3 linked regions of the Homo sapiens genome follow. The protein of the gene in region 1 interacts with the protein of each later gene in a pairwise test. Each region holds a gene or a part of one and is shown in the gene's direction. Other genes may lie near its edges. The genes, in order: CD209, alpha-crystallin A2 chain and DNAJB6.

Region 1 (3,748 bases):
TCTGGAGGAAGAAGTCCTGATGGGTCGTGTTTGCCAGTTTCCCTGGTGTAAATATTCCCATGGTGGCTGATTTCAAGCTGTCGTTGTGATGTCACTCAGTGCAGAGCTGAAAGGAGATGTGCATGACCAGCAGTTAGGAAATGGTTGCCTCTGGCTCCAACACATTAAGCCCAGTTATGAGTAAATGTGCATGGACATGCACAGAACATGTGAAATGGATAAACATGCAGTATTAGCAAGAGGGTGTGAGGAGAGGCCAGCTGTGCATGGATGTGTGCATGTCAGGACACATGTGCCGTGGGATACACATGTGAGAGGGACTCAGACACGAGGGGGCTCAGGACCTAGTATACCAGAAGGCTGTAGGTTAGCCTACAAGCAGAACTTCCTACCAAGAGATGGGGAGACAGAGCCTGGAAAATGGGAAGCAGAGCTCCCTCCTGACTCCTCCTGTACCCTCCAGAACTTCCTACAGCTGCAGTCTTCCAGAAGTAACCGCTTCACCTGGATGGGACTTTCAGATCTAAATCAGGAAGGCACGTGGCAATGGGTGGACGGCTCACCTCTGTTGCCCAGGTAGATCTCAGAAGGGGCACCCTATCCACTGGGGCTGGAATTGTGAAACTCTGATTTGAACTTTCCCTGGGGATCCTCCCCAACTCCCTGACACCCTAGACCCAAGAATCTGGAGGTTTTACTGAGTTGAGGAAGGTGGTCTTCATACCCACTTCCAGACAGCATGGCAGGTGCCTAGAATTCCACCAGCAGAGCTGCAGGAGGAGCCTGCCACCGGGGAGGTGTATTAAAATATAATGTATTAATAGGAAGTCTGAGGTCCAGTAAGGCCACCAGCTCAGGAGACACCTGCCATTGTGAATAGCTTCTCATATACACAGATCCCTAGAGAGAGGACACATCACAGCTGGGGGCCACCTGGGGAAGCACCAGGGTCTGTTATGAGTCAGAGTGGTGGGGAGGGGGGACTGTGGGCCAGAGCCTTTATTATGGTTTCTGTGGAAAGGAAAGGTCAAGGCCAGGTGAACAGGCTTAGGATTGGGAAGTGTGAAGCATTTTTTGGGCTCTGGGGCACAGGGGCTGCCCCTCGCTGTCTGACACCTGGCCTTGGGGTGATTAGTACAGGATAGTGGCTTGGAGTACAAGAGCCCAGTAAGGCAGGTCGCTGGAGGTGTGGACTCCAGACTGGTTGGCTTGTATTTGAAAATCACACACTCAATAGGTGGAGTCCACCCAAGGACAGGTTGTGAGAAGAGAGGCAGGAACTCAAGGCATCGTGAGTCAGGCATATTATCAGGTATGCAGAGGGATTCAAGTCCAGCATACACACGCAGGGCAGATGTTAAGGCATCAAGATGACAGAAGGTAGAAACACAGCTCATGTAGCTGGCGGGGACAGAGGCTCACATTCCGCATGGGCTTTGCAGCTTCAAGCAGTATTGGAACAGAGGAGAGCCCAACAACGTTGGGGAGGAAGACTGCGCGGAATTTAGTGGCAATGGCTGGAACGACGACAAATGTAATCTTGCCAAATTCTGGATCTGCAAAAAGTCCGCAGCCTCCTGCTCCAGGGATGAAGAACAGTTTCTTTCTCCAGCCCCTGCCACCCCAAACCCCCCTCCTGCGTAGCAGAACTTCACCCCCTTTTAAGCTACAGTTCCTTCTCTCCATCCTTCGACCTTCACAAAATCTCTGGGACTGTTCTTTGTCAGATTCTTCCTCCTTTAGAAGGCTGGGTCCCATTCTGTCCTTCTTGTCATGCCTCCAATTTCCCCTGGTGTAGAGCTTGTTTTTCTGGCCCATCCTTGGAGCTTTATGAGTGAGCTGGTGTGGGATGCCTTTGGGGGTGGACTTGTGTTCCAAGAATCCACTCTCTCTTCCTTTTGGAGATTAGGATATTTGGGTTGCCATGTGTAGCTGCTATGTCCCCTGGGGCGTTATCTTATACATGCAAACCTACCATCTGTTCAACTTCCACCTACCACCTCCTGCACCCCTTTGATCGGGGACTTACTGGTTGCAAGAGCTCATTTTGCAGGCTGGAAGCACCAGGGAATTAATTCCCCCAGTCAACCAATGGCACCCAGAGAGGGCATGGAGGCTCCACGCAACCCCTTCCACCCCCACATCTTCCTTTGTCTTATACATGGCTTCCATTTGGCTGTTTCTAAGTTGTATTCTTTATTTTATTATTATTATTACTATTTTTCGAGATGGAGTTTCACTCTTGTCGCTCAGGCTGGAGTGCCATGGCGCGATCTTGGCTCACTGCAACCTCTGCCTCCCGGGTTCAAGTGATTCTCCTGCCTCAGCCTCACGAGTAGCTGGAATTACAGGCAGGCGCCACCAGACCCGGCTAATTTTTTGTATTTTTAGTACAGATGGGGTTTCTCCGTGTTGGTCAGGCTGGTCTTGAACTCCCGACCTCAGATGATCTGCCCGCCTCGGCCTCCCAAAATTGCTGGGATTACAGGTGTGAGCCACCGCGCCTGGCCTATTATTTTTTGTAAGAATAAAACAGGTTTATTGGGATTTGGGACTCTGAACAGTTCTGTCTCTACTACCTGATCTCCTCCTACCACGACTTTGGGATCTAGAGGAGCTTTGGCTCCGGCTGTGACGGCTCCGGCCGTTCTCACTGCGGCTGCACCGGCCCCCGCTGCGGTCACTATTTCTTCCTCTGCTAGGTGAATTGTGCCTCTCCTGGCTCTTTGACATGTGCTAGTGAGATTTCTTCCTTTTCCTTTCGGATTCCCCATTTCTTTTGTAGGAATGGTCTGGACTAGGGTTCTCCTTCCCCGCAGCCTGTAGTATTCATCGTGGTGGCCCACCCTCTCTCTCCCCTTGGAGCTCTTGCCAAAGGAGGAGACAAGCAGAGGTCTCTATTGGATTTCTCAACACCTGAAGAAAGTTGCAGTGTTTTCCTCTTGGACATTGTTGTATTTCAAATAAACCACAAATCATCATTTTCCACCGAGCCACTGGGCAGAATTCACACTGAAGCTGTCGTCCTGCGTACATACCATCGTCCGTTAAACAGAGAAAGAGCTGCTTGGCATTCTTCTTCCGACTGGTACTGAACATATATACTTGCCCCTCAGGTGAGGTTCCAAGTTGCAACTGACCTTGAACTGAATCACTCTCCCCACGTTATTTTTTAATTACTATTTTTTTTTAAAGATGGGGTCTTGCTCTGTCGCCAGGCTGGAGTGCAGTGGCGCGATCTAGGCTCACTGCAACTTCCGCCTCCCGGGTTCAAGCGATTCTCCTGCCTCAGCCTCCCGAGTAGCTGGGACTCCACTAAAAGTACAAAAATTAGCTGGGCGTGCACCACTGCGCCCAGCTAATTCTTGTATTTTTGGTAGAGACGGGGTTTCAACATGTTGACCAGGATGGTCTCGATCTCTTGACCTCGTGATTCGCCCGCCGCGTCCTCCCAAAGTGCTGGGATTACAGGCCTGAGCCACCGCGCCCAGTCTCTCCCCACGTTCTTGAACTCGGGCAGCACATCCTCACAGAAATCTAGGAACTGTTGGTAGGTTTCTTCCTCGCTGTACTCCAGGCTTGCTTCGGAGTCATAGTCATCCCTCCTGCACTGCTCCTTTCCAAACACTGTAAACATGCTTTTAATAAGAAGGGTAGGACTGGATGTTGGGAAATCATGTGAACATCTATCTCCAAATCTGCAAGCTCCTGTTTTACTGTAGAAGGGACAATTAACTCCATCCTTCTC
Region 2 (3,748 bases), on another chromosome or scaffold:
AAGTGTCATCTTTAAAACTGGCCATATTCTGAAACTTGGTTCAACTGACAAATCTAAACATTCTTCTTCTTCTTCTTTTTTTTTTTTTTTTTTTTTTTTTGAGACAGAGTCTCGCTCTGTCGCCCAGGCTGGAGTGCAGTGGCATGATCTCGGCTCACTGCAACCTCTGCCTCCTCAGTTCAGGCAGTTCTCTGCCTCAGCCTTCTAAGTAGCTGGGATTAGAGGCGCCTGCCACCATGCCCTGCTAATTTTTTGTATTTTTAGTAGAGTTGGGGTTTCACCATCTTGGCCAAGCTGATCTTGAACTCCTGACCTCGTGATCCCCCTGCCTCGGCCTTCCAAAGTGCTGGGATTACAGGCGTGAGTCACCGCGCTTGGCCATTTTCTTCTTTAGTGACCAAAATTCCTCCCCTTAGGCATTTTTGGTCATTCAGAAGGAAAATCTAAATTATGGACACTTGTGCTTCTAGAGCAGACATGCATCTGCAGAGACGGCAGCTGGATTCGTGGACAATGCTTATGGTGCCACCTTCTGTCAGTATCTAGAAACATGGTCTCACTTAACCCGTGAAGACCCCAGACTATAATAGCTAAAATGGGGCGCCTTTAAAGTAACTAGTTTATGCACTCAATAGGAAAAATCTGCATCTAAAATTTAAAAACTGAGAGAGCTATTTTTCAATGATACTTAGAAGCTTCTAAAAGAAGTTCTGATGAAGTCATTTCTTTGCAAGAAGAAAACAGAAGATTATCTGAAACTATTTCTTTTGTTTGTTTGTTTTGAGACAGAGTCTTGCTCTGTTACCCAGGCTGGAGTGCATTGGCGTGATCTTGGCTCACTGCAACCTCTGCCTCCCAGGTTCAAACGATTCTTCTGAGCTGGGATTACAGGCATCCCCCACCTTGCCTCGCAATTTTTTTTTTTTTTTTTTTGAGACAGAGTTTCATTCTTGTTGCCCAGGCTAGAGTGCAGTGGCACGATCTCAGCTTGTTGCAACCTCCCCCTCCCGGGTTCAAGCGATTCTTCTGCCTCAGCCTCCCAGTAGCTGGGATTACAGACACCCACCACCATGCCTGGCTAATGTTTTGTGTTTTTAGTAGAGACAGGGTTTCACCATGTAGGCCAGGCTGGTCTCGAACTTCTGATCTCAGGTGATCCACCAGCCTTGGCCTCCCAAAGTGCTGGGATTACAGGTGTGAGCCACCACGCCCAGCCATCCACAGTTCTTTTTAAAATTTAGAAGTAGTTTCAGGCTGGGTGAGGTGGCTCACACCTGTAATCCCAGCACTTTGGGAGGCCAAGGTGGGTGGATCACGAGGTCAGGAGTTCAAGACCAGCCTGGCCAAGATGGTGAAACCTCATCTCTATTAAAAATACAAAAATTAGCCGGGCATGGTGGCGGGCGCCTGTAATCCCAGCTACTTGGGAGGCTGAGGCAGAGAATCACATGAAACCCAGGAAGCGGAGGTTGCAGTGAGCCAAGATGGCGCCACTGTACTCCAGCCTGGGTGACAGAGTGAGACTCTGTCTCAAAACAAAAACAAAAACAAACAAACAAAAAGACCATGGAGGCTTTCTCCTGTTTGTTTCCAGCTGCTGCTTCTCCTTCTGCCTCTGGGATGATCTAAACTCATCTCTTTCTGCCTGTTCCCTCAGCTCCCATACATCTCTTAAGCAGTGTTTTTGGAATTCCACAATGCACACATTTCCTTCTCTCAAAAAGGGGAAAGTATATTTAAATTTGGAACAGACTGGGTGCGGTGGCTCACACCTGTAATCCCAGCACTTTGGGAGGCCAAATTGGGCAGATCACCTGAGGTCAGGAGTTCGAGACCAGCCTGGCCAACAGGGTGAAAACCCGTCTCTACTAAAAATAAAAAAAGATTAGCGGGGAGTGGCTGCGGGCTCCTGTAATCCCAGCTACTTGGGAGACTGAGGCAGGAGAATCACTTGAATCCGGGAGGCAGAGGTCGCAGTGAGCCGAGACGGCGCTATCGCACTCCAGCCTGGGCGACAAGAAGGAAACTGCGTCTCAAAAAAACCCAAAACAACAACAACAACAAAAATAAAAAATAAAAAATAAAAGAAATAGGCCAGAAAAGAAATGTTAGCTCAAGCCTGTAATCCCAACACTTTGGGAGGCCAAGGCTGGTGGATCACATGAGGTCAGGAGTTCAAGACCAGTCTGGCCAACATGGTGAAACCCCATCTCTACTAAAAACACATGTGGTGGCATGTACCTGTATTCCCAGCTACTCGGGAGGCTGAGGCAGGAGAATCGCTTGAACCCAGTAGGTGGAGGTTGCAGTAAGCTGAGATGGTGCCACTGCACTCCAGCCTGGGCGACAGAGCGAGATGCTGCCAAAAAGAAAAAGAAAAAGAGAAAGGAAGGGAGGGAAGGAGGGAGGGAAATTAAAAAAATAAAATGCTAACATCCAGGGAATTAGTTCAGCTGAGATCAGATCTGAAACAAGTCAAAACCCTTTAAATGCTCAAACTGCCTGCTCTGGAGCCCCTGCAGGGTTTGTCAGTGCTCCAGCCTGTGGGCCAGAGGCTATGAGTCTCTACAAACATGAGGCTATGTTTGCAGCCTGGGTTCAATTTCCAGTCCTGTTTTTTTTTTTTTTTTTTGAGACGGAGTCTTGCTGTGTTGCCCATGCTGGAGTGCAGTGGCATGATCTCGGCTCAGTGCAGCCTCCGCCTTCCAGGTTCCAGCAGTTCTCCTGCCTCAGCCTCCCGAGTAGCTGGGATTATAGGTGCCCACCACCACGCCCAGCTAATTTTTTGTATTTTTAGTACAGACAGGGTTTCACCATGTTGGCCAGGCTGGTCTTGAACTCCTGACCTCAGGTGATCTGCCTGCCTCGGCCTCCCAAAGTGCTGGGATTACAGGTGTGAGCCACCGCGCCTGGCCTTCTTTTTTTTTTTTTTTTTTTTTTGAGATGGAGTTTCGCTCTCGTCACCCAGGCTGGAGTGCAATGGCATGGTCTAAGCTCACTGCAACCTCCACCTCTCAGGTTCAGTCAATTCTTCTGCCTCAGCCTCCCAAGTAGGTGGGATTACAGGTGCTCACCACCACGCCTGGCTAATTTTTGTGTTTTTAGTAGAGATGGGGTTTCACCATGTTGGCCAGGCTGGTCTCGAACTCCTGACGTCAAGTGATCCACCCACCTCAGCTTCCCAAAGTGCTGGGATTACAGGTGTGAGCAGCAAGATTTCTTTTTCTGAGCTGTCTTTAGAGTGGTTCTGACGCTTAGGAAGACTGCTTTGCATTTCTTTGGAGATGCTTGGTTCAGCCTTGGTTAAGTCATGACCTTCGTTATGCCATTACCTTGGTTAAATCTTTGTTTTTGAGATGGAGTCTCGCTGTGTCACCCAAGCTGGAGTGCAGTGGTGCGATCTTGGCTCACTGCAACCTCTGTCTCCTGGGTTGAAGCAATTCTCCTGCCTTAGCCTCCCGAGTAGCTGGGATGACAGGTGCATGCCACCACACCTGGCTAATTTACCTTGGTTAAGTCTCACTGGTTTTGTGAGTAACTTGAAAATGTCCATTTCGTTTTTTTTTTTGAGATGGAGTTTCGCTCTCATTGCCCAGGCTGGAGTGTAAGGGATGGCCTGATCTCGGCTCACTGCAACTTCGGCCTGCCAGGTTCAAGCGGTCCTCCTGCCTCAGCCTCCCAAGTAGCTGGGATTACATGCATGCACCACCACACCTGGCTAATTTTGTATTTTTAGTAGAGACAAAGT
Region 3 (3,748 bases), on another chromosome or scaffold:
AGAGGGCACTTCATAACTTGGGCAGGTATTTTTAGTCATCCTGAACGTGTCGCTGTGGACTGGGTGTCACCGCGGGACCGCACAGACACCTTACTGTCGTCTGCTGTAAAGGTCAGCTTCTATATTGGTTAATGCTTACAGATATCTGTTGAGGAATAAGAGAATGTAATTAGCCTTTGTATTTGTGAGTTGACGTTTTGACGGGATTTTTACTTCTTAGTATTTATTTGCATCGAGGTTACACACTGGATTAACAGCGTTTTTTGGAAACCTTTTTAAAACTTTTTCATTTCCTCAGAAATGATTCTGTTCAAAATGTGGTTTGGTTAAATTTGTGCAGGACCCCACCTGGTGGTGAGAGGCGGGTAACTGCAGGCTCATTAGCGAGTAAGAGTAGGATCAGTGGCAGGATTTAGCAAATGGTGTAGTTCAAGGATGAATAGAATTTGAGAATATCAAACTCAAAAAAATGAGGTTAATGAGAAGAAGAGCAAAGTTGGTGAAAACAAGAATATGTTAGAAACGATGATGTAGGAATGGAAAAACGACAACGCCTACCTGCAGAAAAGTCAACTAGTAAAAATGTGATTTTTTTTTTTGTATTGATATTAATGAGGTGTTTTGTCAAACAAAACCCTTTATGTTTTTGTATGGACATAAATCACTGTTGACCTGTTTCATGTTCCTGGAGATATCCTACTTGAGAAGGAATATTGATTGATGATTAGTTGACTGACTGATTTACTTGAGATGGAGTCCTTGCTCTGTGTCCCAGGCTGGAGTGCAGTGGCGCGGTCTTGGCTCACTGCACTCCTGGGTTCAAGCCATTCTCCTGCTTCAGCCTGCCAGGTAGCTGGGATGACAGGCGCGTGTCACCACGCCTGGCTAATTTTTGTATTTTTAGTAGAGACGGTTTCACCATGTTGGTCAGGCTGGTCTCGAACACCTGACCTCAGGTGATCCCCTGCCTCCGCCTCCCAAAGTGCTGGGATTACAGGCGTGACCCACCGCACCTGGCTGTGTGTGTGTGTGTGTGTGTGTGTGTGTGTGTGCGCGCGCGCAGGTGGAATCACCCTGTGTGCCCAGGCTGGTCTCGAACTCCTGGCCTCAAGTGAGTCTTTCATCCCGGCCTGTCAAAGTGCTAGAATTACAAGTGTGAGCCAGGTGCCTGGCCAGATTTTAGATTTTTTTGTTGTTGTTGAGATGGAATCTCATATTGCCCAGGCTGGATGCAGTGGCGCCATCTCGGCTCACTGCAACCTCTGCCGCACGGGTTCAAGCGATTCTCCTGCCTCAGCCTCCCGAGTAGCTGTGATTACAGGCACCTGCCACTGCTCCCGACTGATTTTTGTATTTTTAGTAGAGACGGGGGTTTCACCATCTTGGCCAGGCTGGTCTTGAACTCTTGACCTCGTGATCCACCCGCCTCGGCCTCCCAAAGTGGTGGGATCACAGGTGTGAGCCACTGCGCCAGGCCATATTTTAGAATTCTTAAGCTGTGTTGCAAAATTACGTGTCTTTGGAAGGGTGATTTAGTTTACACTACATATGATTTTTCCCCCTTTGATATTTTTCTACTTACCTTTTGCCACCAAAGGCTTAAATTAAAAGTGTGTTTTATATTTGTGTTGTGCATATATACGTGTGTGCTCTAGTTGGTATGCTTATGAACTGTGTACTAATACTTATTCCTCTCTGCCACCTTGAGATGGCATGTACCACTTGGGTGGGCTTTGAATCTGAAGTTATTTGTGTTTATAGGAATGTCCAGGACACAGAGTGCTTAGAAAGTATTGATTGAATTAGATTCTTTCTAGTTTGTGTATGTCCTGATGACCTTCCTGTGATTAATAATGGAATCCAGAATTCAAGAAAGTTGGAAAAAATAAGTTTCAGCAGCACTGGAGACTGAGTACTTAACCGAGTGTTGCTTTGTTTATTTTAGAGTCTCACACTGTCACCCAGGCTGGAGTGCAGTGTCGCGATCTTGGCTCACCGCAACCTCCACCTCTGGGGTTCAAGCGATTCTCCTGCCTCAGCCTCCCTGGTAGCTGAGATTACAGGCGTTCGCCACTACACCTGGCTAATTGTTGTATATTTAGTAGAGAGTGGGTTTTGCCATGTTGGCCAGACTGGTTTGGAAGCAGGTGATCCACCTGCTTTGGCCTCCCAAAGTGCTGGGATTACAGGTGTGAAGCACCGAGCCTGGCCCTATTTTATTATAATAATAATTTTTTTTGAGACAGGGTCTCACTCTGTCACCCAGACTGGAGTGCAGTGGCGTGATCTCAGCTCACCCCAGCCTCCGCCTCCTAGTGTCAAGTGATTCTCCTACCTCAGGCTCCGGAGTAGCTGGGATTACAGGCACGTGCCACTATCCTGGCTAATTTTTTTTTTTTTTTTTTTTTTTTTTTGAGTTTCACTCTTGTTGCCCAGGCTGGAGTGCAGTGGTGCAATCTCAGCTCACTGCAACCTCTGCCTCCCAGGTTCAAGCGATTCTCCTGCCTCAGCCTCCCGAGTACATGGGATTACAGGCATGCACCACGACACCCAGCTAATTTTGTATTTTTAGTAGAGACAGGGTTTTGCCCTGTCCAACTCCTGACCTCAGGTCATCCGCCTGCCTTGGCCTCCCAAAGTGTTGGGATTACAGGCGTGAGCCAGCGTGCTGGCCTAACTTCTATATTTTTAGTAGAGATAGGGTTTCACCATGTTGGCCAGGCTGGTCTTGAACTTGTGACCTCAATCCACCTTCCTCGACCTTCCAAAGTGCTGGGATTACAGGTGTGAGCCACCAAGCCTGGCCTATTATGATTTTTTAATGAAAGGGAGTTAAGCTTGGAAGTATCTAATAGGTGATGAGTGCTAGTTGAAGAAATGGTCTCTGATCTTGAGTAATGGGGAAATAACTTCTGTGTTTGTTTCAGAAATATTTTAGGACATACTGGATAATGAAATAAGTAGGTGATGTGTGTGATAAGGAATGAAAATTCACTGCTGTGGGTTTTTTTTTTTCCTACCTGTCTGTACTTTTTTTGTTTTTGCTTTTTTTTTTTGTTGTTTGAGACCAAGTCTCACTCTGTCACTTAGGCTGGAGTGCAGCGGCGTGATCTTGGCTCACTGCAACCTTTGCCTCCCAGGCTCAAGCAATTCTTGTGCTTCAGCCTTCTTTCTGAGTAGCTGGGATTACAGATGTGCACCACCACACCCAGGTAATTTTTTTTTTTTTTTTAAGACAGAGTCTTGCTCTGTTGCTCAGGCAGGAGTGCAGTGGCACTATCTTGGCTCACTGCGCCTGCACCTCCCAGGTTCAAGCAATTCTCCTGCCTCAGGCTGCCGAGTAGCTGGGACTACAGGCGCTCACCACCATGCCTGGCTAATTTTTGTATTTTTAGTAGAGAAAGGGGTTTGCCATGTTGGCCGGGCTGGTCTTGAACACCTCAGGTGATCTGCGTGCCTCGGCCCTCCAAAGTGCTGGGATTACAGGCGTGAGCCACCTCACCTGGCCTCAGATGAATTTAGAAACCACTATTTTTTTTTGAGATGGAGTCTTGCTCTGTTGCCCCGGCTGGAGTGCTGTGGTGTGATCTCAGCTCACTGCAAACTCTCCCGGGTTCAAGCAGTTCTCCTGCCTCACCTGGAACTACAGGCGCCACCACGTCTGACTGGGTTTTGTATTTTTAGTAGAGACGGGGTTTCACCACGTTGGCCATGCTGTTCTCAAACTCCTGACCCCAGGTGATCCACC

What was found.
Region 2: the proteins of CD209 (region 1) and alpha-crystallin A2 chain interact in binary tests that used the Homo sapiens proteins (3 or more experiments, as listed by UniProt).
Region 3: the proteins of CD209 (region 1) and DNAJB6 interact in binary tests that used the Homo sapiens proteins (3 or more experiments, as listed by UniProt).

Annotation. Positions count from the first base shown.
Region 1 is NC_000019.10:7,740,935-7,744,682, reverse strand, and holds part of CD209 (CD209 antigen), read left to right. Parts: intron 1-463; coding exon 464-576; intron 577-1,442; coding exon 1,443-1,644; 3' UTR 1,645-3,748.
Region 2 is NC_000021.9:6,502,120-6,505,867, forward strand, and holds part of alpha-crystallin A2 chain, read left to right. Parts: intron 1-3,748. UniProt on the Homo sapiens protein: Contributes to the transparency and refractive index of the lens. In its oxidized form (absence of intramolecular disulfide bond), acts as a chaperone, preventing aggregation of various proteins under a wide range of stress conditions.
Region 3 is NC_000007.14:157,339,947-157,343,694, forward strand, and holds part of DNAJB6 (dnaJ homolog subfamily B member 6), read left to right. Parts: intron 1-3,748. UniProt on the Homo sapiens protein: Has a stimulatory effect on the ATPase activity of HSP70 in a dose-dependent and time-dependent manner and hence acts as a co-chaperone of HSP70. Plays an indispensable role in the organization of KRT8/KRT18 filaments.